Regions from separate parts of the Homo sapiens genome. Here all the other regions are linked to region 1. Evidence: fine-mapped expression QTL. A gene starts in region 1. Each other region holds a variant in brackets. All regions are shown on one strand. Distances are from middle to middle.

What was found. PIP is the estimated chance that this variant, and not a neighbour inherited with it, causes the effect. A credible set is the group of variants that fine-mapping cannot tell apart.
Region 2: its variant is the best candidate, but not a certain one, in a credible set for the expression of GPSM1 in sigmoid colon (GTEx, PIP 0.89).
Region 3: its variant is the best candidate, but not a certain one, in a credible set for the expression of GPSM1 in whole blood (TOPMed, PIP 0.62).
Region 4: its variant is the best candidate, but not a certain one, in a credible set for the expression of GPSM1 in cerebellum (GTEx, PIP 0.52).

Annotation. Positions count from the first base shown.
Region 1 is chr9:136,322,871-136,330,087 of GRCh38, reverse strand. It overlaps GPSM1 (G protein signaling modulator 1), which reads right to left and starts at 2,549. Exons shown (of 14, transcript NM_001145638.3): 1 at 2,325-2,549. The coding sequence starts at 2,392. DKFZP434A062 (a long non-coding RNA gene) reads left to right here and starts at 2,765. Exons shown (of 1, transcript NR_026964.3): 1 at 2,765-7,217. RefSeq lists enhancers at 1,329-1,857, 1,858-2,387, 4,917-5,545, 5,546-6,172 and a silencer at 3,421-3,715.
Region 2 is chr9:136,353,269-136,359,894 of GRCh38, reverse strand. GPSM1 (G protein signaling modulator 1) reads right to left here. Exons shown (of 14, transcript NM_001145638.3): 12 at 4,049-4,205; 13 at 3,345-3,553; 14 at 294-1,881. The coding sequence ends at 1,675. It overlaps DNLZ (DNL-type zinc finger), which reads left to right. Exons shown (of 3, transcript NM_001080849.3): 3 at 1-412. Among named protein-coding and RNA genes, the nearest start is that of DNLZ, 7.2 kb to the left of the region's middle. The variant G/A (reference allele first, on the strand shown) is at 4,161.
Region 3 is chr9:136,343,307-136,350,523 of GRCh38, reverse strand. GPSM1 (G protein signaling modulator 1) reads right to left here. Exons shown (of 14, transcript NM_001145638.3): 10 at 1,757-1,827; 11 at 761-937. Among named protein-coding and RNA genes, the nearest start is that of DNLZ, 17 kb to the left of the region's middle. RefSeq lists enhancers at 4,283-4,936, 4,937-5,590, 6,124-6,905, 6,906-7,217. The variant G/A (reference allele first, on the strand shown) is at 2,751.
Region 4 is chr9:136,288,284-136,295,500 of GRCh38, reverse strand. CCDC187 (coiled-coil domain containing 187) reads left to right here. Exons shown (of 26, transcript NM_001378188.1): 5 at 3,206-3,340; 6 at 3,856-5,015; 7 at 5,448-5,542. Among named protein-coding and RNA genes, the nearest start is that of CCDC187, 12 kb to the left of the region's middle. The variant T/C (reference allele first, on the strand shown) is at 3,927.

The DNA.
Region 1 (7,217 bases):
CCAAAGCCCTGCTCTGGGCCAGGGAGCCCCTGGCAAGTGGGCCAGAATTCTGAGCATTAACTGTAGCACCCAGGGCCCTGTCCCCACCGACCCAGCACCCAGGGCCCATCCCCACTGACCCAGAACCCAAGGGCCCGTCCCCACCGACCCAGCACCCAGGGGCCCGTCCCCACCGACCCAGCACCCAGGGCCCCGTCCCCACCGACCCAGCACCCAGGGGCCCGTCCCCACCGACCCAGCACCCAGGGCCCCGTCCCCACCGACCCAGAACCCAGGGGCCCGTCCCCACCGACCCAGCACCCAGGGCCCCTCAGGGTACCCAGTGGGCTCATGGGCACATTCATGGGCCTCGCTGTCAGTGTGTTTTCCAGGCACAGTTCCCCATTTTAAAAGCTGAAACTCCTCTCTCCAGGAAGGAATGTCAGTGTGGGAAGGCAGTAGACGGGGCAGAGGAGACCTTGGGCCAACCTGGAGCCCCATCCACATTGAGGGACCCCAGTACAGCCACGTGAGGAGTGCCCACACGGATTCCGCCCACCTCCAGGGCATCCACATGCCCACCGCCCACGCCAGCAGGTGGGCCGCCCCCAGCACTCGGGTTTCAGGAGACAGGAGACTTTTCCGTGTCTTGCTCTCCAGCCCCAGCATGACAGCAAAGGGCCCTCCCGTCTGGCCCGCAGCTTCCACTGGCCCAGAACACGTCTAGGCATCCATGCTCTGAAGCCAGCTCCGACCAGGAACCGCCTGCCCAAACCGGGCTGTGGCTACACGGTGGGGTGCAGACTCCCGGGGGGACCTCGTCACAGGCCCTGCTGGAGGGCTTGGCGCGCTTCCCCCAAGTCTGGGCCTGACTCCACCCTGGAGCTCAACTGGACTCCCTGCTTAGGGGGATGCAAGGCTGGGTCTGGGGTCTCTCTGAGTGGTCCCCCTGAGCACTGCCCCTGCCAGGGGCTGGCTCCTGCCTGGCGTGTCCCCAGGGGACCCCAGGCTTCTAGCTGTAGCCTGGAGAATGCCCAACTCTATGGTCAGCTGTGCAGGCCTCACCCAAGGCTAAGGTCTTGGACACCCGTCTCTCACAGCTCCACACACACACTCTCTCACAGCTCCACACACTCACACTCAAACTCACTCCAGCCAGGGCTGCTATCCATCCCCCTCACAGCACGGCCGCCCTGGAGCACATGCGGCCCTGCACAGCCGATCAGATCAGCGGAGGAAACCCTTGAAAATCCTTTAGGGCAGGCCCCTGGCAGCAGCTGCCAGCAAAATCACCCTCACGCCCCTCCCCTGCGTGGGGCCCAGGAGCCAGGCTAGGGGCTCAGCGCTCCATCCAGGACGGCACAATGGGGCTGTGTCTGGGACCAAAGCAGAGAGCAGACCGGAGGCAGCAAGGCCTCTGTCCGCCGTGCCGCCACCAGTACCTCATTTCGGGTGCCCCAGGCAGAGGCTTGCTGCTTGGCTGGGGCCAGAGAATCCTTGGGGGCCAGGCTAGGCGCCCCCCGGGATCAGCTGCTGGGACCCCTATCAGGGAGGTCACCAGGTTTTAGGGATGTCCAGAGGACAATAGTGTCCCTCGCTCTGGGGAGCCAGGCCTGCCTCTGACGGCTGCCACCCATTCGCAAGCCCCTGCCTGGACCTCACGCTCGTGTGGCTCTGCCTGAGGCCTGGTACCACCCAGCCTTGCTTGGGGCTCCAGGCACCTGCCCGGCTGGGCCCAGGGCAGCCCCTGGGGGGACATTGGGAGTCACCAGGCAGGCATGCCACCTGGGGCAGGGCCACCCTGTCATCCCCAAAGGCGTGGGGCACAGAGCCCAGTCACTGGGATCACCCAGGAATGTGCCCGGAGAGTAGATGCCTTTTCAGGCAGGTACACACCCACCTGGCTGGCTCCCTTCCAACCCAGCTGGATCCCACTGGGCTCGTGGAGGGCTGGTGAGGGGCAGAGCCCCATCCAGAGCAGCCAGGTCTCTTTGGCCATGATGCCCCTGAGTGCCCCGGGCATGGCAGGGCCAGGCTTGGGAGGGAAGCACCCCACGGTGCCCCTGCCAGGTGCCAGGGGAGTGAGGCTGGAGAAGCTGCCCACCCCGCCTCCAGCCCCCCGGCCCCCCACCCCCTTCCCCTTGGCTTGGGGGAAAGAGGGCTTCAGGGGACGCCCACGCGGGCACACGCCGGGCTGGGCTCGGCCTGGAGGGAGGGGCGCGTCCTCAGCCACGCTGCGCGCCCGCGAGAGCTGCCTTTGTTCCCAACTGCAGCCTCCCCCGCGTCCCGACCCGGCCCGGTCCGGTCCCAGCCCCGGCCCCGGCCCCGGCCCCGGCCCGTCCTACCTGGAGTAGAGGCGCCTGGCGGCCGGGCCCGGGAGCTCGTCGGCCGCGGGCGGGGCCGGGCCCGCCATGGGTCGGGGACGCGGGAGCGGGAGCCGGGAGCGCCCCCCGCGCCGTGGCCGTCCGCCCCCTGCCCGCCCTGCTGTCCTCCCTGCTGTCCGCCCTGCTGTCCGCCTGTCCGTCCGCGCCTCGTTCGCCCGTCCTCCCCCGGGGAGGCGCCGAGGAAGTGATGTGCGCGGGGCGCCGCCGCCCCTCCCGCCGCCGTGGCCGTGATGTCACCGCCGCCCGCGCGGGGAGGGGGCGCGGACCGGGCGGCCACCGCCGCGTGCCTCCCTCTGCGGGGGGCGGGGCGGACGCGGGGGGAGGGGCGCCGTGAGGCGGGCAGTCCCCGGGGAGGGGGGAGGGGGGAGGGGGTGTGGGCCCCAGCCCACCCCACCCCAGGGAATGCAGGGGAGAGGGCCTGGGCCTGGCCTTGCTGCTGGTCCCCTGGGGACTTCTGAGGGCCCGCGGGGGTCCCTGGGTCACAGTGCAGCCACACTGGCCTCTGGGCTCCTTTCATCCACAGGCCGCCTGGTGAGCCCCGCAGCCTCACCCACGTGGGGAGGGGCTGCTGAGGCCTCCTTGCCTTTCTTGGTGGGCGCCCTACGCCTCGGGGGTCCTACCCTCCTCTTCTGTGCAGCCCCAACGTGGCTTTGCCCCCTTCTCCAAACTTCTGCCTTGGGCCATGGGGCGCAGGCCGTGGGGATGCTGTCTGCCTGCTTTAGAGAAACCTGGGGCACCGATGACAAATACAGGCTCTGCTTGGCCTGTGGGACGGTTGGTAAGCCCCCCACCTCTGAGACCCTGGGTGGCCACATTCCCCTCCCAAGCTCCCCCGGAATGGGGATGCAGCCTGCCCCTTCCTTCCTCCTGGGCACTGTGCAGGCTTAGGGAGGATGCAGGTGGCACAGTAGGCTGTGCCCACCCGGGGTCCCGGGACCCCAGCCCCTACCGCCTCCTCCTCCTCCTCTGAATTCTTGGAGCCCTGTGGGCCTATGTGGTGTGACGTGGCTTCCCCTCCACCCACCCTCAGCTCCCGATGGCTTGGGGGGTTCTCCGCAGCCAGCGAGGCCCACAGCCGGCCTCCCCGGGTTCTGTCCTGCCCCCGACAGCATCCTGGGCCTTCCGGTGGTGTCAGGAGACTCCAGGCCCTTGAAAGGCAGCTGCGACCCCGGGTATGACTCGGAGAAGTCCAGGAGCAGGAAATGGGCTGCATTCCTTCGGGGCCCCTCCGTGCACCCCAGCCCCTCCCTGGGAGAGCTGCCCTGAGGTCAGGAAAGTGCCGTCCTGGCAAGACCCTCAGCAGCTGCCGCCCACAGGACAGTCAGCGTTTTCAAGCATGGGAAGGAAAATAAACACGAGGTTAAAAAGGGGTCTGTTGGCCCCGGGCTGGTTTGTTTTTCCTGTGTAAGGGAGGCAACGGGAATGAGAACCATCTGTGCCCTGAGCGCAGCGCAAGCTGCCTGCTGGGCCCACGTGCCCTCCCCCAAAGACCACAGAAGCCAGGCAGAGCCTTGCTCCCTTCCAGCCGGGGCCGTGGCTGCTGGCCGGCAGGGACAGTGGTGTTGGCTGGGGCACCACCCTCCTTTGCCACAGCCCTGGGCCTGGCTGCGGGCAGAGAACAGGCCTTCGATTGAAGCTCCAACCTTCCGGGCCACCTCCTTTGGGCTTCGGGCACCTGAGCCAGCATCCCATTGTAAGGGCAGGGGCTGCTGGGGGCCCTGCCTGTGCCAGGCCTCAGCTCAGCCCTCTTTCCCCAGGCGCTGCTGCCATCAGGAGGCCCACAGAGGGTCCACACCAACACTGTGAGCCCCTTGTGGGTCCCCTGGGTTAGTGGTGGGAGGCTGGTGAAGAGAAGTGGGGACAAAAGACATTGCACAAATGGTGGAGGGAGGGAGAGATTTGCAGCCTCGTAGCTGTCATTGCTGGGGGAGCTTCTCCTGGTCTCCTTCCTTGATGCAGAGAGCTGGGAGCTTGTGTCCCTGGGCCGGGAGAGCCCCAACATTATATCAGAACTTGTGGGGAAACCTGCACCCCCGAGGGCTCTGGCTTTGTTAGGCCGAGCTGGGCTATGAGGCTGTGTGACCTGGCACAAGTTGCTTTCCCTCTCTGAGCCTCGGTTCTGTCACCTGAGGGCTGCCCGTCCCGCAAGGTGTGGAGGGTCACTGAGGCGTGGGGTTTCTGCGGTGCTTGTCCATGTGCCTGGCACACAGTGGGGTTTGTGCAGTGCTTGTCCATGTGCCTAGTGGCTCACAGTGGGGTTTGTGCGGTGCTTGTCCGTGTGCCTGGCACACGGTGGGGTTTGTGTGGTGCGTGTCCATGTGCCTGGCACACAGCGAGAGCTGCTGGGGTCATGTTGCTCTCACACTCGTGCCTGCCCCTGCTGGGCCCCTGCAGTGGGTCCTGGCTGGATTGGGGGTACATCCCCACCACACTGCACAGAGGGGCGTCTCCTCCTATCCAGGGACCTGATTCTCCTGTCGAGAAAACCTATGAAGGGGACCCAGAGATGGAGTGTGACAAGGCCAGGTGACAGGCCTGACATGTGGTGTCCACATCCAGAAGGGAGACCCTGGAGGGATGACCCTCCACTGCCACCCCCTCCCATCAGGCTCTGGACACCCTCGAGCCTCCCACCATCCACCTTACCAGATCCCCCCAAGAGTCCGGGAAGCTCACTCCCCCAGGGGACCAGGAGCACAGCCCCTTCCATTCCTAACGGGCCTGACTCCCAAAGGGGGGTGAGGAAAGAAAAAGCCATTTCACATCGACTTATTCTTCTGGCCCCAGGCAGCAGCACAGGGCGCAGGGTGGGCCTCTGCAGACACGATGGCTCCGTGGTCAGGGAGGGGCCACCTCCCATGTGCCTGGGGAGGGGCCCTCCCAAGCCCCTGCGTGGCAGCGCCAAGGGGTTGGAGTCAGCCCCAGCACACACAGGGCCCTGCTCACTGGTGGCCATTGTCAGCGCCACCTCCACCTTCAGGAGCCTGCCACGTGCCTGCCCTCGGTCACTTAGCCCTCCCTGGCACGCACCACTTTGTCCACACACCCTGTGTGTAAGTGGTGACAGCGGTGACAGCTCAGGCGTCACCTGATCGGGCCGACTCTAAGCCTTAGTCCTTCCTTGTCCTGTTGCGCCGGACAAGCCTCTGGGAGGCGACGGTGGGACAGCCACAGGGTTCTTGGCTCAGCCCCCAGGAGTGGGGAGCTGGGGCTCTGGACGGAGGTGGGCACTCGAGGCTGGTGTGGCCTCCTGGGTGAGGGCCAGGCTCGGGAGAGGCAGCCAGGCGGCCCCAAGCCACCCCAGGAACAAAGCACCAGCACACACCTCCACTGGTTTGCTAGGGCTGGGAGAAGTTGGAGTGTTTCTGTGGTGGCTGTGGCAGCCCACGGCCCCAAGACCCTGGCTTCCTTCTGCTCCCACCTTTTCAGGCCCCTTCCCCAACAAGCAGCTACTGTAGGACCCAGTGGGGGCTAGGGCACCAGCAGCTGCCATTACCCATGCTGGGTCCTGATGGTTCCTGACCAGCCTCAACCGTGGATTCCAAGCTGGGGAAGGAAGAAGCAGGCCGGGAGTGGGGAGGGAGACAGTGAAGGACACCCAAACACACACACACACACACACACACACACACACACACACACACACACAGAAGGAACAGTTTCAGCTTTGTTTCCCAGTAATCTCACTTAAAAAGAACACTTGGGTTTACCATGTTCACATAATCTCGTTGCTCTGAGAATGAACTTATTCTTCCTCCCAGCTTGGCCATGTGTTCCTCCCCATTGCCCAAGTCCCCTCATGACATCATCTCCCACTGCCATGTCCTTTCCTTGGGGACCTCCAAGTCCCTGGAGTTTGGGGACTGCAGGGTGGGTGGAGGGGCCCACAAGCTCTGCAGGGAGCCAGAAGGAAACGGTCTGTCCCACCCCAGGGCTGAGCACCTCGCTGGGAGATGATACCCACACCTGGAAATAGCTCAAGGGCCGCGTGAGGCCGCACGACACCCACGCCAGTATGAGACACCTGGCCATGCGGCATTCCTGGCCGACTGCTGGCAGCTGCAGACTTTGTCAGCCAGGTGATGTCCCCGGGATCTCTGGGCAGGCAGGGCACACAGGAGGCAGCTCACGCTCACTCATCATGGCGAGGCAGGTCGTGTGGAACTTCCTTGGTCTTCCTCATCTGCGCCCCACCCAGCCTGGCAGATGGTGATGCTGTGAGTGCCAGGGAAACACACACACGCACACACACACACATGCACACATGTACAGACAGGTGCACATGCCTGGGAGAGTCTGTGCTGCTCAGCTTCCGAGGGCAGCTCCCCAGGTCTCCCCCCGGGTCTGCGGTGGGAGGCGAGTCTTTTAACATCAGCTCAAACCAAACAGGATGAGGAGGGCAAATCGGCCGTCCCCAGTAAATCCTAGGGAGTCCCTCCAAGGCAAACAGAAAATGCACCCCAGCTTTCGCTTTTAGGGGTTTGAGTTGCGAGTTTCCAGTCTGCGGAGTGCGATGGCCGGGTGTAAGTCTGAAACCCTCTGGGGGAGAGAAGCCGCACAGTGCAGGGGTACACATCCCAGATCCACTCCCCAGCTGTGAGGCCCAGGCGCATTCCGCGTTCCCCGCCCATCTCCACCTCCGAGGGTTGCGGGAGGCTGAGCAGTTAGAACCGTGGCTGGCATACGGAGGGCACTCGGTAAACGTGGCTGTGCTGAGCTGTGGGCCTCGAAGGAGTCTCGCGGGGCTGCTGTACCAATGACCTTGCACTGGGTGGCCTAAAACAACATGTGTTTCCTCACAGCTCGGGGGACCAGAGCTCAGAATCTGGGGGTCACAGAGGAGGGTCCATGCTC
Region 2 (6,626 bases), 30 kb before region 1:
TGGGGGCTGCTGCTTCTGGGGGCTGGTCCCGGCCACGTGAGTGTCAGCTCAGAGCATGCTCTGTTTCCCTAGGGGCTGGGAGCGTGAGGAGGTAGGGGTGCAGGAATCAGTGGTGACAGCAGGCAGCCACTTCACCCCTCTGTGCCCCAGCTCCCCCGTGGTTAAATGCAGTGGGAACTCCATCTCTCTGAGGTCTCAGAGGGCCCAGACAGTGGGTATCTGTGGACACTTTGCACAGTGCAGCCTCTTACCGGGTTAGGCCCCCACCCGGGACTAAGCCCATACGGACCACACTCACTTGGCCGACTTTATTTTTCAGGAAAAACAGAAAAACAAATGTACCTCTTGGGTTGGAAAGGACCCATTGACAACATGGCACAGACGTGAGCAATAAATACGCACATACATTCAAGTATGCGGGGGGGCGCTACGTCCTGGAGACCCTGTGTTCGGGCACCTGTCCCTGCTCTCGGGTGCGGCCCTGCCCCTCCAGAAGCAGGTCACCTCACCAGGCCCAGATCTGCCTCTCCATCCTAGCCTGAGAGTGGGGCCTAGAGGCACCCTCCTAGATGGAACTGCCAGCCCTGGGGGCTGTGGGGCCATGGTAGGGCCCTTGGCAGTCTTGGGAGGTGCCAAGGCTGGGTCTGGACAGGAGGAGGCAACCTCAGGCCCCTGGGGCCCATCTCAGGCTCCAGCAGGTCCTGCCAGTCCTAGGATCCCGAACTTGGTGCCCTGTGAGCCCCCTCCCCATGGAGAGAGCAGTGATGTCATCTCCCCCAGCTGGTGGGAGGAGGGGGGTTCTCATATGGGGGGTCTGCAGGGTTGAGCTGAGTGAAGCCTCCCCAGCTTCCACTGACCACCCCCCCACTTGGGTGAGGGTCACAGAGCCTGGTGCTACCTCCCACCCTGACTGGGCACTGCTCTTGCTGCCAGTAAGCATCCCTAGGACCAGGCCCTGCCCTTTTTCCTGGCTTGGGGTTTTGGAATGTCGAAGTTCATGCCCAGCCATTCCCTCTGCTTTAGAGATAGGCCCGGCTCCTGTCGAGGCCCCTGCAGGGCCCTGGGACTCGGCGGGGGGCACCTCAGGGCTGCCACTGCAGCCTGGTCTGCCATGCGTGGTCTGGGGGGCCTTCTGTGGTTGCTGACCTCTGGCCGGGGAGTGGGGAGACAGGCTTGGAGGGAGCCCTGCCCCAGGACGAAGCTGGAGGGGTGGAGCATGCCTGTCACACGGCCATCCCAAGACCAGCTCTGGGGGGACAGAACATGGCCCTGTCCTTGGTGGCCCCAAGAGGCGGCTCAGAGACACCTTTGGGGAGGGTGGGGGAGACAGCAGGGTTTCACATTTGGCAGGGCAGGGCAGAACGGGAAGGGCTTGGGGGAGAGGATGCGGGAGTCTGACAGCACCAGGTCGGGGCCGACATGCCGAAGGCCCCGTCCGGCCTGCGGCAGGGGCAGAAGGGAGGAAGCTGAGGGCCATGGGGGCCAGCCCGGGATGGAAGCACGCCCTCCCACCACGGGCAGCTTGGCCTGAGCCTGTCGCCCTGGGTCGGGGAGGCCGTGGGGCTGCATGCCCAGTGCCTGTCCTCGGCAATGGCCTCGGGAGGACGTGGCTGTGACTGTGAGACCGGCGTCCAGGAGTGGGGGCAGGGTGGGCCTGGCGGTGGGCACAGGGCCTTAGCTCGCACCAGGCTGGCACTGCTGCTGGGGCTCGGGCGGGCCGCCTGCCCCCTGCTCCGGGCCCCCGGCGAGGTCCACCCGCTGCTCGTCCATGCGCTTAGCCTGCACCCTCTGAATGAGGCTGAAGAAGTCCTCGTCCGGCATGGTAGGGCCCCGGGGCAGTACGTCAGGTGGCGGGCAGCGCTGGTCATCGATCCTGGAGGACTGGGTGGACACAGTGCAGTTGGCGGCCTCACCCCCCCAGCCCCAGTGGTCCGGGGCTGGTCAGCAGCGGTGGTTCCAGAGGCCAGCGTGCACTGTTCACGGGCTTCCCCCTGTCCACCCAGGAAATTGGTTCTGGGGCCTGCCTCGCTCTGGGGTCTTGTGCTGGGAGCCCGGGCCCTGAGCGCAGTCTTCTGGTGGCCCCGCCACCAACCCGCAGGAGCCCAGGGCAGGCCCGCCCAGGAAAAGCAGGTCCAGCGATTCCCACTGGGCATGGGTGTGCCAGGCCCAGGAGACAGTGGCTAGGGCGGCGTTGGATGCCTGCTCCCCACATCTGCTGATCCCCAGGGACGGGCATGCGTGGCCGTCCCTCTGCCCAGCCCTGGAAACCAGCACAGCCTGGGACTGACCCTGGCAGGCCTGAGGTCTCAGCTTCCAGAGCCCGAAGTGTGGCGCCCCCCAGGGCTTCCCCTTGTGTCAGGTGGCTGACCCCGTGGGCCTCGCCTGCTCCAGTGTGCAGGCCAGGGGGCCAAGGGGTTGTCTGGGCTTCTCTGAAGCGCCTGGAGCAGGAGGGACGGGAGCTGGCGCAGGCATGCGTGTGGATGGGGGACTCTGGGCCTCTTGGGTGGGGCTGGTTTGGAGGTGGCTGGTCGGACGCCTGGCCCCGGGCCGAGGTTTCCTCTCTGCTGTGGGGAGGACGGCAGACCTGGAAACGTGCTGGCTTGGTTCGTGGTGGGCCAAGCGGCCTCCACCCCCAGCCTGTTCCCAAGTCTACGGACCCTGAACCCCTTCCCAGCAATGGCTGCACCCCACAGGGATGGCGAGACCCCCAGAGTTTGAGGTCCTAGTTGGGATAGCAGTTGGCTCAGCAGTCTCCACTCCGGCCACCCTACCTGGCTCACCCCCACACAGATGAGGAGGTCATTCCTGGCGTGGCTGCCAGGCTGGAGCCCCGGCCCTGGCTCTGCCCTCTGGGGCTGGACCCTCCGCCCATGCCGTCCACTGTGTGGTCCCTGGATGGTCCCTGTTTTTGTCCCACCAGCCAGCTGGCAGCCCTGGATCCCCCTGCCCTCCCCACTCTGGGGGTGCTATCTGGCCCGTGTTTTCCCTGCCGGGTGTGGAGGGCTGGTGGGGAATCCCTGAGGCCATGAGCTCCAGGACCTGTGACCCCCCAGCCCCCACCCCGAGTTCCTGCATGGCAGGGGGGTGGCACAGCCTGGGAGTGTCCTGGGGTTGCCAGGGGGGGTCTCTGGTGTCTCCAGCAGCCCGGGGTTCCCAGGAGTAGGGCTTCAGGCTCAGACACCCCTGGTCATGTGGTGACACTGGCTGAGTCCCCCAGGAGTCCCTCAAACATGACCGGAGATGGCAGAACCAGCGCCCACCTCACCCCTCAGGACACAAGTTGCCTCCACACACGTGGATGGCAAAGGGGCCGCGAGCCACGCCCGCCCAGGGCCGCAGCCCACCTGGTACTTGATGAGCATGTTGAAGAAGTCGTCCCCCGGCTCCTGGGGCTCGCCGTGGCCTCGGAGGTGCCCTGCATTGCTGTGGGTGATTCGCAGCCCCGGCAGGCTGCCCACGCTGGCCCGCTGGTCGTCCAGCCGGCGGCTCTGGGAGCTGGCGATGAGGTCGAAGAATTCCTCGGTCTGGGGCGAGGCCGTCATCGAGGGCTGGGCTGCGGGGGGCCAGAGGGTGAGACCTGGGACCCAGTGCGGGGTCAAGCCCGAGGCTCGGGCTGCGGCCACAGTGAGCTCTGACCTCTGAGCCCAGCCCAGCCCACTGTGCTGCTGGGGCCATGGCTCCTGGGGGAGTCTCCGCTGACCGGCCTAGGCAGCTCTCAGCTGCTCCCCCTGCTGTGGCTCCCACGCCCACCTCAGGGGCTTCCAGGGGGTGACAGGAGGAGACAGGAGGAGAACGCCAGTCCCCCACGCCCTGCCCCCTCCCTGAGACTGCCCCTGCAGCCTGAGTGTGTCCCGGAGGGCGGGCTGATGACACGCTTCCCGGGATGCTGCTCTGTGGGGGCTGCGGAGGGCGCCCTCAGTGACAGGGTGCTCTGCAGCTGGCCTGCTGGTCTGCCCCCGAAAACTCCTCACTGGAAGCAGGACGGGAGCCCTGGTCCTGGCCCCTGCAGACAAGCCCAAGGGAGGGCCCGGCTGAGGGGGGCACTCACCGATCCTGTCCTCCAGGGTGGGGGCGGCCGTGGCCTCGGCAGCCCCGGCCTGGCCATCGTCCAGGGGACAACGCTGGTCGTCCATGCGGCTGCTCTGGAACTTGGTCAACAG[G/A]TCAAAGAAGCACTCCTCGTCCGAAGACGGGGCCCTCGGGATGCTCTGGGGAGGGAGTGGGGTCACCGCAGCCAAAGCTAGCCCCGCAGACCCCCAGACGAGACCGGGGGCTGCTTGCCCAGGCCACACACACTTCTGAGACCCTGGCCAAGATCGGGACTCTAACCTGCCCCCTGTCGGCTACCCCTCCCCCAGAACGTGTCACCCACCCTCGGCACCCGGCTACCCCTCCCCCAGGACGTGTCACCCACCCTCGGCACCCGGCTACCCCTCCCCCAGGACGTGTCACCCACCCTCGGCACCCGGCTACCCCTCCCCCAGGACGTGTCACCCACCCTCGGCACCCGGCTACCCCTCCCCCAGGACGTGTCACCCACCCTCGGCACCCGGCTACCCCTCCCCCAGGACGTGTCACCCACCCTCGGCACCCGGCTACCCCTCCCCCAGGACGTGTCACCCACCCTCGGCACCCGGCTACCCCTCCCCCAGGACGTGTCACCCACCCTCGGCACCCGGCTACCCCTCCCCCAGGACGTGTCACCCACCCTCGGCACCCGGCTACCCCTCCCCCAGGACGTGTCACCCACCCTCAGCACCCGGCTACCCCTACCCCAGGACGTGTCACCACCCTCGGCACCCGGCTACCCCTCTCCCAGGATGTGTCATCCACCCTCGGCACCCGGCTACCCCTCCCCCAGGACGTGTCACTCACCCTCGGCACCCGCCGACTGCCCCGGACTTCTCCCCTCTCATGGGTGCTACCCCAGTCCAGGCCTCTGTCCGTCACCTGCCCTGGGCCAGCCTCCCCAGCCTTGGCCTGGAACACTTCCCAGACATCCCGGGAAGCCTCCCGTGCCTCCTGTCCCTGTGCCCACCACACCCTGTGTCAGCCCTGCCATGAGCTCCCTGTGTCCATGCCCTACACAGCCCTCACCGGTGTCTGCTGTGTGAATGAACTCGAAGGAATGAACCCCGCCCTGGGCCTCAGTCCACACACCCAAACAAGGGAGGCTGGAGGGCGTGGTCTCCTGTGGCCCCCCAAGGGGCCCAGCTGAAGCAGGTCCACCCCGTGACCCAGCCTCACAGGGCCTGGTCCGGGCCCCAGGGCTGAAGGGTGTTTGTGATGGTTCCAAGCCCCGTCCACCTCCCGACCGGCGCTGGCAGCCCCTGCCCGGCCCCAGCCTGTCCATCTCACGGCTGGTGGCCTCTTCCAGGTCTGCAAATGCTGGGCTCACAGCTGAACGAGTTAACAAGAGACGCAATGTTGGTGGAGATGGCACCTCCCGGGTCCCCGATGCTGCCTGGAATTCCCAATACCTGACCCCCACAGCCCAGGAGACGGACAGCTGTCTGACAGACAACTGGAATTCCCGACACCTGACCCCCACAGCCCAGGACTAGGGCTCCCGTCCTGCTTCCAGTTTTCTGCTGGACTCGGCCCAGGGCACAGGAGAGTGGGGCCTAGAGACATGTGTGACCTACCCAAGGTCATGCTGGAGCAAAAAAGAGCTGGGATTCAGACCCTTGAGCTGAGCCGAGGGCCCTGTGGACAGCCCTGTTTTAGGAGAGACCCCACCTGGCTCTGGCCCCTGGAGTCAGTCCCCAGCTGTCACGGAAGCCTGAGGTACCTCCTGTCCCTGAGGCAGACCTGAGGAGGGAGAGTTCTAGCACCCCCTTCTCCCCGCAGGGCTCTCCTCCTGCAGCCTGGCTCAGGCCTAAGGCAACACCCCCACTCCCCCGGATTCCCCAGCCAGGAGGGAGGGGAGAATTGGCCCAGTCTGTGGGGAGGGCCACATCCACTTGGGCCAGGGCTCTGGGAGCTGCAGGTCCAGGCAGAGGGTGGCACTGGGGTTGCCAGCCTGAGTGCCAGTTGGGGCCACACAGGTACCTCCCCAGGAGGATGTGGCCTCCTGGTCTAAAAGGAACTGGCTCCTGGGCTATGATGACCTAGGGCACAGCCGCGGGGGGCCTCTGCCTCTGGCCCAATCTGGACTCCCCCAGGTGACCCGGGGCCCAGGTGGACTGAGCAAGGTCCCTCCTGGGAAAGGCAGGACCCGTCAGGGGCCATGTCCCAGGCCCCATGGCAGAGCCCCTCTCAGGGTCCTATGTCGGGCAGCCCTCCCCTTCCCTGAGGCTGGGGCCAGCTGTTGAGGGGCTGATGCCTCCCTCACATGGGGGCAGGGGCCCACGACTGCAGGTGCAAAACCGTGGCTCAGTGCCTGGTACGGGGAAAGGCTCTGGATAGTTTGGGGCTCCTGGAGCCCCTCAGAAGCAGGACCCTGGGCCCCAAGGCCACCTTCCCCTGCATTTATGTCCCAGTAGAACATATCCAGTGGGACTCGGGGTTCCGCCTCCCTGCTCTAACCTCTCCCTTGCCCCAAGCCCTGGCTCCCTCCTTCCCGGAGGCCTCAGAGTCCCTCCTGCAGTCTGACTCTAGTCTCTCTTGCTTTGGCACAAGCCCAGTTT
Region 3 (7,217 bases), 20 kb before region 1:
GCACCCACAAGGAGAGGCCCCAGTACCTTGGCCCAGCTGGAGCTGCAGGTGCTTCCACACCAGGGCCTGACCATGGGTGTGGCTTAGGGGCTTCCCACCCACCCCTTGGGTGCCCCTCAGGCCCCTCTGCTCAGGGACCCCCGCCAGGTGTCAGAGATCCCAGGATTCCCCCAGGGACTGTGTTGGCCTCGTCCACCCCTCCAGGGCCCTGGTAGGATACACAGGCTTGACCTCACTGGCCAGAGCCTCCAAGAGCCACCTCAGGAAGGGGCACCCCATCAGGGGATCTGTGCAGCCCGGCTCTCACAGTGAAGGCAGCCAGTTCCTTTCAGGGACACGCTCCTGTGACTAGCGGATGGGTCTGGAGGGTCCCAACAAAGGAGGGTGGGGGCTGGAGTCAGAGAGAGAGGCCACCTGAAGGCTGGGAAGAGCCAGCCCCCAACTGGTGAACAAGATGGAAACTGAGGCCCAAAGAGAGGCGGGGCGTTCCATGCAGAAGAGCCCAGCCTAGAGTCCCCAGGAGGCTCCTCGGTGGCCGGGGCCTCTGAGGCCAGGTGCGACCACAATGCTAAACACTGAGCCCTGCCCAGAGCCCCCACCGGGGTCCCAGGACAGCACTGCACCAGGTGCACCGGGGAGGGACCCCTGCCTCCCCGGAGTGCCCGGGCCTGACCTGGCCCCGTTGGCTGGCAGTGGAGTTGGGGCGCAGTTGCCAAGCTCTCCTCCCTCTCGGCCTGGATCTGCCGTCAAAGACGCCTACCGTGCGTGGCACGTGCACCCGGACGTCGGCGCTGTCCAGCGGGGAGTGGCTGCCCTCCCGGGGCCTCCTCTCAGCGTCCGGGCCTTCCTGGTACTTCCTGCTCCTCACGGGGAGGGGTAGCGAGTCCCTGCTGGGCCCCCGCCAGTCCCCTGAATGGTGGCTGTCTCCATTCTGCTCCTGGGGAGGGGTAAGGCTGTGCGTGGCCTGGGCAATTGTGAACCAATGTCCCCATCCCAGGACCCTGAAGGGAAGGCCAGGCCGCCTCCATTTCATGGATGCACGCCGTAGGTGCCCAGTACCCAGAGAGGAGGAGAGGACTGGGGCTGTGGGCCCTTGGCTGGGGCCGGGAGAGGCAGGGTGGGGTGTTTGAGGGCCAGTGGCCCCCGCAAATGTCAGCCGGCTTATACCAGCAATGACAGTGACTGTGGGCGTCCTTGGGTCTCGTCCCCACAGCAGAACCCTGACGGCCATCCACAACTGAACACAGGCCACACCAGAGGAACCAGAGGCTCAGAGAGATCAGGCTGCTGGCCCAGGCCACACAGCACCCACTGCCGACAGGCACAGGGCCAGCCCAGGGCCCTACGCCAGGCAGCCCCCGAATCTGTCTGTGTGGGTCTGCTGAACCCCAGCCAGTGTCTGCACCTGCAGCAGCTGTGCCCACTTTGGGTCAGAGTCCGAGAGGGCAGGGAGCAGGCAGGAGTGGGTGCCCCTGTCTGTGGGCTCCCGAGGGTGTGGTGGCATAGCAGCTGGGTGGAGTATGGGGGCCTGAAATGTGTGAGGACCATGCCTCGCCTGGGGCACAGCTGGCCAGACGCTGAGGGACATGGGTGAGCAGGTGGCAGATGGGCCATGCAGGGCATCAGGCCGAGGAGGGCACATTTATCTCCCAGCAGACAGGGGCTGAGGTGGGTGGCGGTGGCTCTGCCTCATTAACCCCGCTGCCCATGCTCTGGCAGCGGCTGTGCTGACATCGGTCCCGTGTCCCTGGCTCACCCGCTCCAGGGGGAGTCTCAGCAGGTCCCAGGTCTCCGCGCTCAGCCTCTGCGTCCTCTTGGGTCTGGCCCCTGAAGACAGAGGGACCCGGTCAGCCCAGCACCACCCTGGCACCTCGCATTGGGTGGGCCAGGCCAGAGTCTCTGGGGGGCCAAGGACCAGCCCGGCCATGGCTTTCTGACAGCCAGCCCCCCTTGTGGAGGCGAGCGCCATGTCTGAGTGTCCTCTGCGTCTCCCCGACTGTACTGTCAGAGTCAAAGGGGACAGGTGTCGAGACAGAGCGCGTCCTGGCTGGGGCCAGGTGGGGTCTGGCTTTGGCTCCCTGTGCTGGAAGGGCCCGGCTCTGGACAGGCCTCTCCCCTGCCGCACACAGGGCCTCCCCCGTCAGTCCTGCTGTTCCCTCTGCCTGGATCACCCTTCCTGTGGCCCCTGGTCACCTCTGTGAGGCCACCCAATCCCCCCTCCTGAGGGTGCATCATGCTGTGCCCCGGAGGCAGGTGGGGCGGGCCTGTGGGTCCACTCCCAGCTCACTGCGGGCAGCCCAGGCCAGGGTCGGGGACGCAAAGGCCTCAGATGAATCCCCCAGACCAGCTCTGCCGTGGGACCTTCCCCGGGCTCCTGTCCATCCCTCCTGGCCCGGGGCTCACCCTACTGGCCGTGTCTCCACCCAAGGGACCCCCATCCCCTCTAGCCGCAGTGGGGTGGTGGGGCACAGCTGCCTGACCCAACACTGGCCAGCTGCAGACTCAGCGGAGCCACCAGTGCCTGTCCCGGGCCCCTGGGAAGCCCCACAGCCAGGCCCACCTTCAAGCCTCAGTCCCAACACGGCCCTGGCAGAGACGGGTGTCACTCAGCCCTGTCCCAACACAGCCCTGGCAGAGACGGGTGTCGCTCAGCCCTGCGGGGCCCGAAAGGATTTGGGAGTTTGGGAGAGTGGGCCCTACCTCAGCCCAGCCGCTCCCTGAGCACTCTCAGGAGCCTGTATCCAGGGCAC[G/A]ACAGACCTGGCAGATCAGAAATCAGTTGGCGAACGGAAAAAATGGGATGGAATCCGGGAAGTGGGGAATGTCCTCAACCAGGCAGGAAGCCCTGTGGGAAGGGCCCGATGCTGTGGCTGAGAGCCAGGGTCTGCGGGCGCTTCCCTGAGGAGGCGGCGGGACGGACAGGGGCACAGCCACTGTGGAAAGGGCAGCAGAACGTTCTAGGCAGAGGGGACGACGGCGGAACGAGGCTGACACTGAGGACCCTGTCTCTGCTGTCCCTACGCCTGGCACATCTCCAGGGAGACTCTCGCAGCTGGGAGGACCCTCATCCTCCTCCCTGCTCACCCACAGCTCCCACCCCCCTATGCCCACCCTTACCCAGTCTTCCTGGGAACCAAGCGTCCCTCCACCCGTGGACACACTGGACACGGGCTGTGCCCAGGAGCCCTGCGCACACCCAGTGTGAGTCCGAGGGCGGGGCCAGAACCAGCCCTGGCATCAGTGGGCACTCTGAGAATCCAGTCCTGGCACCTCCAGACCATCAGACTTGGCCCCATTACTACGCCTCGGAGCTCAGCGCCCTCCTCATCAGACTGCGCCGGCATGGATGGGCCGGGCCGGGCAGTTCCCCTCCGCACTCATCCCCCCGAGAGGCTCAGCTCCTAAAGTGAAGCTGCTTGGTGGCTGCCTGCATCAGGCAGATGTCGGGGGGCAGGCCCAGACACCCCCTTACCCTGTCCAGGCCCCACTGCATCAGGGAGCACAGCCACCAGGGTTGGGGCACTCGTCAAAGTTAGCAGCATGAATGGCCAGGCAGGGTGCCGGGGCCTCAGGTGCACCCGGACCCCACCGTTAGCCCTGGGTTCTGGGCCCTGCCGGGGAACACAACATCCACAGAGGGAGAGAGCCGGCTCAGGCGGGCAGTCACTCGGTCATTTCAGGCACTGGGCCCCACACACAGCCCCTCCCAGCCTCACCTGCACAGCTGTCACTCAGCCAACATCCCCCTGACCCCAGCCTCAGCAGGGCCCTGATTTAAATATGAGCCTGGCCCCGACCATGAGGGAGGGAGGAAATGGGCCCGAGTGTCAGGGTCTCTCAGGGTCTCCCTTACAGGCCCATGCTGCGGATGAGAACAGGCCTGGGTCTTGCTGGGGGGCTGCTGTCTGAGCATTGTGCCACCAAATGGAGTCCAAGCCTCCACCCCCAACTGGGAAGGGGGTCCTGCTGCCACCTAGTGAATGGCAGTGATGAGGATGCACTGGGGGCTTCAGACGGCTAAGAAGGCACCTGGTGGACAGCAAGGTGCTACCTATGGGGCAGAGGGGAGCCCCTGGATCGGCCTGGCTGCTAGCAGCCCCTTCCTGAGTCTGTCCATGTGACCCGTTTAAATGGTGAGCTCCTAAACGCAGCTGGGGGGAAGGGGACAGGAGCAGAGGGAGCTGAGGACTTGGGGGCCCAGGCTGGTCTTCCGCCTCCAGCCCGCTGGCCCCAGACCAGCCCACGGCGAATGCCTACAGCTTCATGAGAGCTGGGCAGGGACCGGGAACTGGCTGAGTGTGGGCTGTGCGCTTCCCTGGCCTGGCCTCTGGGCTCCGAGGACACACCCTAAGCTCCTGCTCTCCAGGGGCCTGGGATGGAAACCTGTGCGGCCAGAGGCACACGTGGGGCCCATCAGGGGCCTGAGCAGGACACTGGGACCTGGGGCCGTCCACTGCTCCTCCCACTCCCAACACAAACGCCCGGGGCAGGGCTCCCATCGCCACCCTGTGGCCACAGTGGTCAGCGGGATCAGGGTTAGCTCCGGCACATTCAGGATCCGGCCAGGCACTGAGGTGGAGCCGCCCCAGCCTCGGGTGGTGCAGCTTGAAGGGACAGAACGGGGCTGGGGTCGACGGCCTGTTCTCTGAAGGGCCACCAGCTGCCCACCCCCACCCAGATGAGCAAGGTAGCTCTGAGGACAGCTGCTGACCCCACACAGTTCGGGGCCTGCTCCCCACACCATGGAAATGACAGAGGAGCACGTCTGTGCTGGGGCGGGCCCTTCACTTACCACACCCAGCGAGAGCCCCGCTCCGTCTCCCGGTGTGCACTGCCTGAGGGCCTGGCTCTCCCTCTGCCGCCCCCAGTGCCATGGGGGCCTAAGTTGGTTTCCCCACCGCATCCTCCGGGTCCTGGGCCCGGCACAGCTGCTTCTGCCAGGCCTGGCCCTCCACCAGGACACCGCATGGATGGGCCCTGGCTGCAGCAGCGGCTGAAATGCTCTTCTGAGACACAGCCTGCGTCTGGCCCCAGGGCGGGCGCCCTCATGGCCAGGCACGGACGGTGGGCGGAAGGCCCGCTGCGCCTGGCTCAATGCACCCTCTGTCTGCAGAGTCGGCTGAGGCGTTGAGTGTGAGTCCAGCGCCCTTGGCTGAGCTGCCCAGACAGGCCCGGCCCACTGGCTTGGCTTCCTGTCTCTCCCGCCTGCGAGGGCAACGTTTGGAAACTTCTCCCAGCACCGCCCCATGGCCACCCGACGCTGACCGTCACACTGTCATCATCATTTCTGTCCTCACCCAGCTCCAGACGTTTATGTGCAATGGCCAACTCAAGCCCATCGAGCATCTTGGTGCCCCCTGTGCCTGCCGGACCCCTCAGGGCAGCACCCGCCCCGCCGGCTTGGCTCAGACCTCAGCAACCCCGATTTTCAGCTGCCCACGGTTCCTTCACGCCCACCTCTGGTCTGAAATCCAGTCTGTCCCCGCCTCACTGCAGATCCAGAGTCCCACCCCTCCTCACCTCCCTGGAGCCGGATCACCTGCCCCTCACCTGCCTGCTGCCCCAGCCTTGCCCCTAAGTCCCCTCTCCATGCAAGGACCATGGGGTTGGTAAGGGCTGGCCTAGGCCTTGCCCCTTCTCTGCTGGGTCCTGAGGGCCCCGCCCCATTGGGGAGGGGGTCTCACACAAGGGCCCACGAGGCCCTCCCTTCTTCGGCCAAGGCCCTCGCCTTGCTCCGTCAGCTCCAGACAGTCTCCCTGTCCCTTCACCTACCAGGCTGGCCCCTGCCTCAGGCCCTTTGCACAGGCTGTTATCTCTGCCCAGACTGCTGTTCCTCCGTCTAAGCTTGCGGCTCACTTCTCTCTGACTTCCAGTCTTTGCTGGAGCATCATGATCAAAGCCCTAACTCCCCATGGGATGGTGTTAGGAGGTCCTGAGGTTTACATGAGGTCATGAGAATGGAGCCCCATAATGACAAGTGGCCTTAAGAGAAGCCACCAGTGTTCTCAAGCTCCCCCTTCTTCCTCGCTGTCTCTGCTAGGTGAGGACACAACAAGAAAGCGCCGTCTGCCAGCCCGGAAGAGGCTCTCGCCAGCACCCGAGCACACAGCACCCAAACCCTGGCCTTCTGGCCTCCAGAGCCGTGAGGAGTAAACGTCTGCTGTTGCTGCCCCGGCCTGCGGTGCTTTGTGAGGGCAGTCGGAATGGACCATGATGGTCATCTCCCAAAGGTGCTGCAGCCTGCTTCCCCTGTTCCTGTCCGCGCCTCCCCTGCTCCTGTCTGCGCCCCACCCCGCTTCTGTCCGCGCCCCCACCCCGCTCCTGTCCGCGCCTCCCCCCGCTCCTGTCCGCGCCTCCCCCCGATCCTGTCCGCACCTCCCCCGTTCCTGTCCGCACCTCCCTGTTGGGCTTTTCTTTCTCCCAAAGCTCATCCCATGTGGCTCACTCCTGGGCTCCCCGTTCCTCACCTATCAGCTGCTGGACGCGGCTCAGCGGTCTTGGTGCCAGTGAGGGCCCCAGCAGTGCCTGGCACACGGCAGGAGCCTGGTGACCAAGCAGCAGGCATTTACTGTGTATCTGCTGCGTGCGGGACCCTGTGTGCCATTTCCCACACACTGTCCCCTCTGGGCCCTCTTAGGCGCACGGACAGAGGGTGCATCCTCCATCCCGGCGGCTGCCCAAGGGCCACTGGGCTGCTGGAACAGGCGGATGGTGCTGCAGCCACACCTGCCTCGTCCACCCAGGGCCCGAACGCAACAGGCTTACGGGCCCTCAGGCTCGCTGGCCTCTCACCCCTGCCAAGCTCTGTTCCCAGCACTACTGATGGGCCCGTTCCCCAGATGGGGACACTGAGGCACAAGTGGGTCAAGTCACTTGATCAGCTGGCCAGGGCTGGAGCCCACAGCCTAAACTGCAGGGGAGGTTATGCCATGCACATCCCTGACCCCAAGGCCACTCGTTGGGACGTTCAGGGGACTTCTCCCAGGAAGGCTGGTGGCATGCTCCCCCAGTAACTCTTGTGTACCGTGCTCACAACGCCCTGAGCAGGGCCCAGACGGTGGAGGGCTGAGAAGTACGGTCAGCAGGGCCGAGGGCAGTCGCACATCCTGTGGGACAGGCAGGGCCATCGGGGACAGGCCAAGGGCAGGGGGCGGTCCTGCAGGGCTCAGGGCCGGCTCCCTCCTCCCAACATGCCAATCATGCTGCCCGCACCAAGAGTG
Region 4 (7,217 bases), 35 kb after region 1:
TTTTTATCATAGATTAGGTCGGCCCCAGAACTTTGACAGGGCACTTGGGGACTTCATCCATTTCCACAGATTAAAAATCCTCTCGTAAAAAAATTAATTGCCATTAAACTGCTCAGCGGAAGAAAAAATGTGCCCATCAGGACCCATTTATCGAGCGGGACCCTCTGGCGGGCTAATGGGGAAGTGAGTGGCCAGCAATGGAGGGGCCGGGCGGGCAGGCGGGCAGCCCCTCCCCAGGCGGGTCCCTGGCCCAGCAACCCAGCGAGGGAGAGCAGCTGTAGGGACTAGGATGGAGAAACCCCACCGGGGCTCCCCTCCACGCTGGGTCCCCCCCGAAACCCAGCTGTGACCAGTTGGGTCACGCTGGCCTCAACTCCGGCCTTTGACACCACCCTGAGCCAGTGGAATCCTGACCCTCTTCCAGGCCTAACTCCTGCAATGATCGTGACTGCCCTTTCATTCTTGTGGCCCTATGGGAGGTGCTGTGAGATAGGCACCCCATTTTACAGATGGGGAAACTGAGGCATGGATAAGTGAAACACTTGCCTGAGGCCCATGGCTGGTGAGTGGCAGAGCCAGACTTAAACCCAGGTCTGAGAATCCTGAGACCACGCCCTAAACCTTCCTCTACCTTGGGGTCCTGTCCTAGACAGTGTATGGCCTTAAGGGGTCCTGCCCTAAAGTGGGTGTGGGGCATGGCCTGGGGTCCTGTCCTGGAGAGGCCGTGGCCATGGGAAGCCTGTCCTTGGGGACGTGGCTTTGGGAGGGCATGGCCTGGTGGGTGCAACCATGTAGCCCATTCACCTTCCTGGAGAGGTAGCTTCAGGCCTGTGGCTGATGGCCAGGGGTCAGGGCAGTGTGAGGAGGGTGCCGTGTCTGGGGGGTGCTAGGGAAGTCCCTGACTCAGTCCGGGAGCCTGCCCCTGGGTGCTCAGCTCTCTGGATGGTCCCTGCCCAAGGCACTCTCATTTGGCAGAAAGTCCCCCTTCATGGGGGCCAGGGCCAGCCCTGGCTGAGACTCCACAGTGGTCTTGACCCCAGGCCACGGGGTGGAGCTGCCCTGGGCTGGGCCTAAGGAAGGGGCATAGGGGCCAGGGACCCTTGGCATGTGTGGTGTTGGCCCTGCAGAGCCAGGTGGAATAAGCAGTGTGTGTGAGTGAATGTGTGTGTGAGAGCACGTGAGGGCATGTGTATATGAGCGTGTGAGAGTGAGAGCACATGTGAGGGCGTGTGTATATGAGCGCGTGAGAGTGTGAGACCACGTGAGGGCGTGTGTATATGAGCGTGTGAGTGTGTGTGAGAGCACATGTGAGGGCGTGTGTATATGAGCGTGTGAGTGAATGTGTGTGTGAGAGCATGTGAGGGCGTGTGTATGAGTGTGAGAGTGTGTGAGTGTGAGCACTTGAGGGCGTGTGTATATGAGCGTGTGAGTGTGTGAGAGCACATGTGAGGGCGTGTGTATATGAGTGTGTGTGTGAGAGCATGTGAGGGCGTGTGTATATGAGTGTGAGTGTGTGTGTGAGAGCATGTGAGGGCATGTGTATATGAGCATGTGTGTGTGGGAGAGCACGAGGGAGTGTGTATATGAGTGTATGAGTGTGTGTGGTTGTGTGTGAGCGTGTGAGTCAGAGAGCATATGAGACTGAATGTGTGTGAGAACGAGTGTGTGGTAGTGTGAGTGTGAGAGCATGTGTGTCTGTGTGAAAGTGTGTGAGGATGAGACCGTGTGTGAGCATGTCAGTGTGTACAAGTGTGTGTGCATGTGTGAATGCATGAGTGAGCATGTGAAAGCATGTGACTGAGCATGTGTGACAGCACGTGCGAGGGCATGCGTGTGACAGAGTGTGAGCATGAGTGTGAGCATGCGAGTGCCTGTCAGCATTGGCGTGCATATGTGTGAGCCTGGGAGCACGTGAGGGAGTTGTGGGCACGTGTGTGACAGTGTGTGAGCATGTCAGTGTGAGTGTGTAAGCGTGTATGTGAGCATGTGTGTTTGTGAGTGTGTGAGCATGTGTTTGTGAGTGTGTGAGCATGTGAGTGTGAGTGTGAGCATGTGTGAGTGTGTGAGCATGTGAGAGTATGTGAGCATGTGAGTGTTTGTGAGTGTGTGAGCATGTGAGTGTGAGTGTGTGAGCATGTGAATGTGTGTGAGCATGTGAGTGTGAGTGTGTAAGCATGTGAGTGTGAGTGTGTGAACATGTGTTTGTGAGTGTGTGAGCATGTTAGTGTGAAAGCATGAGTGAGTGTGTAAGCATGTGAGTGTGAGCGTGTGAGTGTGAGTGTGTGAGCATGTGTTTGTGAGTGTGTGAGCATGTGAGTGTGTGTGAGCATGTGAGTGTGTGAGCATGTGTTTGTGAGTGTGTGAGCATGTGAGTGTTTGTGAGTGTGTGAGCAATGTGAGTGTTTGTGAGTGTGTGAGCATGTGAGCCCAGGGCTGGCCCTACCTCCGGCCTTTGCCAGGGCCCTCGCAGCTGGGCCCACGGGGCTGGTGGGGCTGGTGTTGGCATCGGTGGCCGTGAGCTGGGCTGTGAAGTGCCACCTGGATGAGCGCCACTCACTGCATGATGCCATTTGCGTGCGAAGGCTCGTTTGTACTCGGGACGTGGGGCCGTTTGCTGCAGCGATGCCCGGGACTCCCTGCCCTGCCAGCCGGGGAGCCTTCACCGCTGCCCACCCGTGTGACTGCTGGCTCTGCTGGCTTAAAAGCAGGTTAATCTCCTGTGGCTCGGCACACGTGGCCAGCGGTGACAGGACCTCCCGTGCTGCGCGGAGCCCGATGTGCAGCACGGAGCGGAGGGTGGGGCTGCTGGCTCGCGGTTGTCACTCCAGCTGCTGCTGCTGCTCGGCGTTTCTTTCACATGTGCTGCGTGCCCGGCCTGTGCTGAGAGCTTCACCGGCAGAGCTGTGGGGCAGGTCCTGTTGTCCACGATTTCCTGAAGAGGACTCTGAGGGTCAGGGAGGAGGAGGACTCTGAGGGTCAGGGAAGCCACCTGCCCATGGCCGCCCTGAGACTCAGCCTTGCCCTGTGCAGGCTGAGGGTCCCGCTCTGCCCAACAGGGGCCTGGACATGAGGGATATCCTCCCGGTGCCTTCTGGGAGTGTTGAAGTGGCCTCCTGGCGCTTGCAGAGCCACCAACCTCCCCGTCCGGGCCAGTGCCCAGAGGGCCATGGGGCGCCCGGCTGTGTGTATGTTTTCTCTGTTTAAGATTCGGAGCTGGTTGGTGTTTACGCCTGGAGAAAGGGACAAGCTCTGGTGAGGTCGCTGCTTGGGCCCCCTCCCGTCCTCCGCAGGCACCATAGCAAGGATCCCTCGAGAGACCCGGCTCTCACCGTGGACTTAGGTACCTGTGCCTCTGCCATGGGCTCTGTCCTGCTCTGCTGTGGCATCTGGGGGCGGGCACAGAGAAGGAGACACCCAGGCTCCAGGCCGCCTGGAAGGAAGAGGTGTTGGCGCCTCTCACAGCAGCCTGCAAACACCCTCCAAACCTGCCACCCATTCAACTGGGGACTTTGGGCAATAAGTGTTTTCAAAGCCTGAGAAAAGGGTTTCTGGCCCTGGGAGGCTCCATCGCCAGTTCCCGGGGCAGGCATGCTGCCGAGGCTCTCTCCTGGCAGGAAGGCAGGATGGGAGCCGGCAGGGGCTCCCCAGACACAGGCACACCTGTGCTTGGCTACTGTGTGCAGAGCGGTGGCTCATCACACAGGCGTGGTGCCCACCCTCAGAGGGCTTCTGCCCAGCAGGGGCCCGAGGGCCTCCTCACCGCCCCCACACTCCTTGCCTCCAGCCCGGATGGAGGAGCTGGCTTTGCTCTCCCCTCCGCTCCCCTCCTCACCCCTGACACTCCTGTCTTTGCAGGAGACAGCGAGAAAGTCATAGCTGCCAAGTGCTCACCGGTTTGTGCCCAGTTGCCCGATGCCACCTCCGCC[T/C]ACAGTGACCAGCAGGTGTCTGGGAACACACCCAGCCTGGCTTCCTTCGACCAGCCAGCGACCATACAGACGGCCATGGCCATCCTACAAGACCTGCGCCAGCAAATCCAGGCTGGGCTGGAGCTGGCCCAGGCCCGCAAGGGAGGGCAAGAGCTCGGGCCATCAAAGCGGAGGCTGCAGGACGTGGCAGGGAGGGGCTGCTGCAGGGACCCCAATGCCCAGAGCTCCTTCTCTAAGAGTCCCTGGGCCATGACAGAGAGGAAGCATTCCTCTTTAGAGAGGGCTAGGAGTGTCCACACCTGGGAGCCCTGGAGCTCCTCCACTGCACGGGAGTCCTGTCCGCAGAGGGCCTGGGGGGCCCAAGGACAGGACCGCTCCTTCCAGAGGCCGGAGAGTCCCCATGAGAGGTTGGGCCACTTCTCCCAGAGGCCCTGGAGTGCACTGGCTGGGCAGGCCTGCAGTCCGCAGAGGGCCTGGGGGGCCCAAAGACAGGGCCCCTCCTCCCAGAGGCCTGGGAGCCCCCCTGAAAAGCGGAGCCCCTTCCCCCAGCAGCCCTGGAGTGCTGTAGCCACACAGCCCTGTCCACGGAGGGCCTGGACTGCCTGTGAAACCTGGGAGGACCCTGGCCCCAGACTGCGGAACCCTCTGGAAAGGCCCAGTCCTCCAGCCCAGCGGCCCTGGAGCAGCTCCGGCGTGCAGAGGGCCGGCCCCCAGGGCAAGGGCAGAGGCATCGGCTCCCCCGTCTCGGCTGCCAAGCATGCCCTGCCAAGGCCCACCGGGAGCTTCCCTCAGAACCCACTTGGGAAGGAGAAGGACACGCTGCGGCCCTGCCCCAGGTCCCGGGGGCTCCTGGGACCCTCGCACAGCTCTGAGTCCTTGCGGGAGTTCATGCGCCAGAAGGCGCAGGCCCGGCGGCGGCAGGCCCTGGAGGAGAAGGCCTCGGCCCTGCGCACACGGGAGCTGAGGAGCCGGAGGCTGCAGGAGGTCTACCGGCAGCAGAGGGAGGCCGTCCTCGGCAGGGCGGTCCCCGTGGTCTCCCGGACCACCCCTGGCATCGTGACCTTTGTCCCCAGTTCTGCACAGTCCGGGGTACATGCTGGGGTTGGGTTGGGGGGACTCGGCTCAGCCATGGGCCAGAGGCTTAGGCGCTCAGGTGCTGCCTCCAGCCCCCTGGTGTCCTCCAGGGAGTGGCCGGGCGAGGGCTGCAGCTGGGGGCTGGGGACTTCGTGGCGTCGCTGCCACTGCCTGTAGAAAGCCAGAGCTTCTGTGGATGCCTCCCTGGGGGAGGCCCTGGTGAGGTGCAGGGTCAGACCTGGGCGCCTTTGCCCCTGGGTGCAACGGGGCTCCGGAGGGACCCCCTTGCCTCTCACAGCCCCTGAAGTGGGACCCCGATTCCTGCAAGACTCTGGGGAAGCAGCCTGAGACCCCCAAGGGAGGTCAAGGCCTAGCTCTGAGGCTGAGAGAACGGGGCGTGTGGTCTTCCCGAGCGGGGGGCTCTGATGGCATTGCCCTCTACTTTAGGGCCTGGAAGCCTCCGGGAGCCTGGAGTCCCCAGTGCTGGAATGGAGCAAAGTGACCTCTGGCATGGTGCTGGGGGGCCAGGAAGCCCCAGGCAGGTGGGTGTGAAAGTGTGGGTGCTGCACATGCCGGGCGGGGCCTTGGGGGGGGCCAAGAACAGTTCTGGGTGCGTTCTGGGGCCCTCGTGACATTGCCTCATGACCGAGAGGCTCCTCAGGTGGGGCAGGCTCTGCCCTGCCCGCCCACAGTGCCACCTGCCTGCTTGGAGGAGGCGGTCACCACTGTGCTTGTTCTCATGGAGGCAAGAGTCGCATCAAACTTAAATCCACCACGTTAAAGTGCACGTTCCGTGGCATTGAGCACCTTCCCCGTGTGCTGTGCAACCACCACTTCTACTGAGTTCCGGAACATTCCATCTCCCCATGAGCCCCCACCCTCAGGAGGCAGCCCCTCCTGCAGCCCTTGTGGGGGAGCCATGGGGGTCTCCTTTCTGCCTCGACGGATTTGCCTATTCTTTTTTTTTTTTTTTTTTTTTTTTGAGATGGAGTTTTGCTCTGTTGCCCAGGCTGGAGCGCAATGGCACGATCTTGGCTCACCGCAACCTCCACCTCCCAGGTTCAAGTGATTCTCCTGCCTCAGCCTCCTGAGTAGCTGGGATTATAGGCACCTGCCACAACGCCCGGCTAATTTTTTGTATTTTTAGTAGAGACGGGGCTTCACCACATTGGCCAGGCTAGTCTCGAACTCCCAACCTCAGGTGATCCACCTGCTTTGGCCTCCCAAAGTGCTGGGATTATAGGAGTGAGTCACCGCGCCCCGCCCGGATTTGCCTATTCTTGACATTTTATCTAAATGGGATCACCAAGTACGGGTCTGGCTTCTCTCACCGAGGATAACGTTTTCCAGGCTCATTCAAGATAACGTTTTCCAGGCTCATTCATGTTGCAGCTTGAGTCAGAACTTCATTGAGTCTGTGGCTGAATAATGCCCGGCTGTGGGCAGGTGACCTTTTCTTCACAACCTCGTGGCCAACGGATGCCCGGGCTCCACCTGCCGCTGCCGTGAATGGGTGCTTGCACCTGCTTTGGCCCTTGAGCTGTTTCTCTTGGGTGCACACCTGAGAGTGAATTGCATGGGCACGTGCACCTCTGTGTGCAGCTTTCTCGGGAACTTGCACCCTGTTCTCCACAGCAGCCGCCCTGGTTCCCATCCCCCGGCCGGCGTGAGGGTCCCCATCTCCCCACTTCCTCACAGCGCTTACTTTTAGGTTCTTTTCTGTGTTTCTGTTTTGCTTTGACTACTGTGTATTTTAATTTCTGGAGGCCCCTCCCCCTGGGGCATCGTGAATCACACACATGGGGTCTGAAGACCTCCCCCAACTTTGCTTGGGGGAGTTGCGCCTGGGTCTCACTACAGTTTCCAGCCTGGCTCTCGCCCAGGAAGGGCTGTGGAAGGCCCCAGCTTCAGGCCAGTGGCAAACACTCTCTGGCCTGGCCTCACGCTAGGCACCTGTGAGGAGCTCACGGCCAGGCCTCCTGCATGCCCTGGGTTCCAGCGGGCAGGGGGAGCTGGCTCAGAGGCCAGGGAGGGGCTCCCACCCACCAGAGCGTCCCACCCTGGACTCCCTCAGGGCTGCCCCTGGCGTATCTTTGGCAGCTGGTATTGGGGGCTTCAGGCTGGCCCCTGGGAGCTCAGCTCCCACCCCTCTCTGCAGGACCCGACCCCTCCCTCTGGCTCCTTTTGGCTCCATTTTGTCTTGAAGGCACTCGTTTT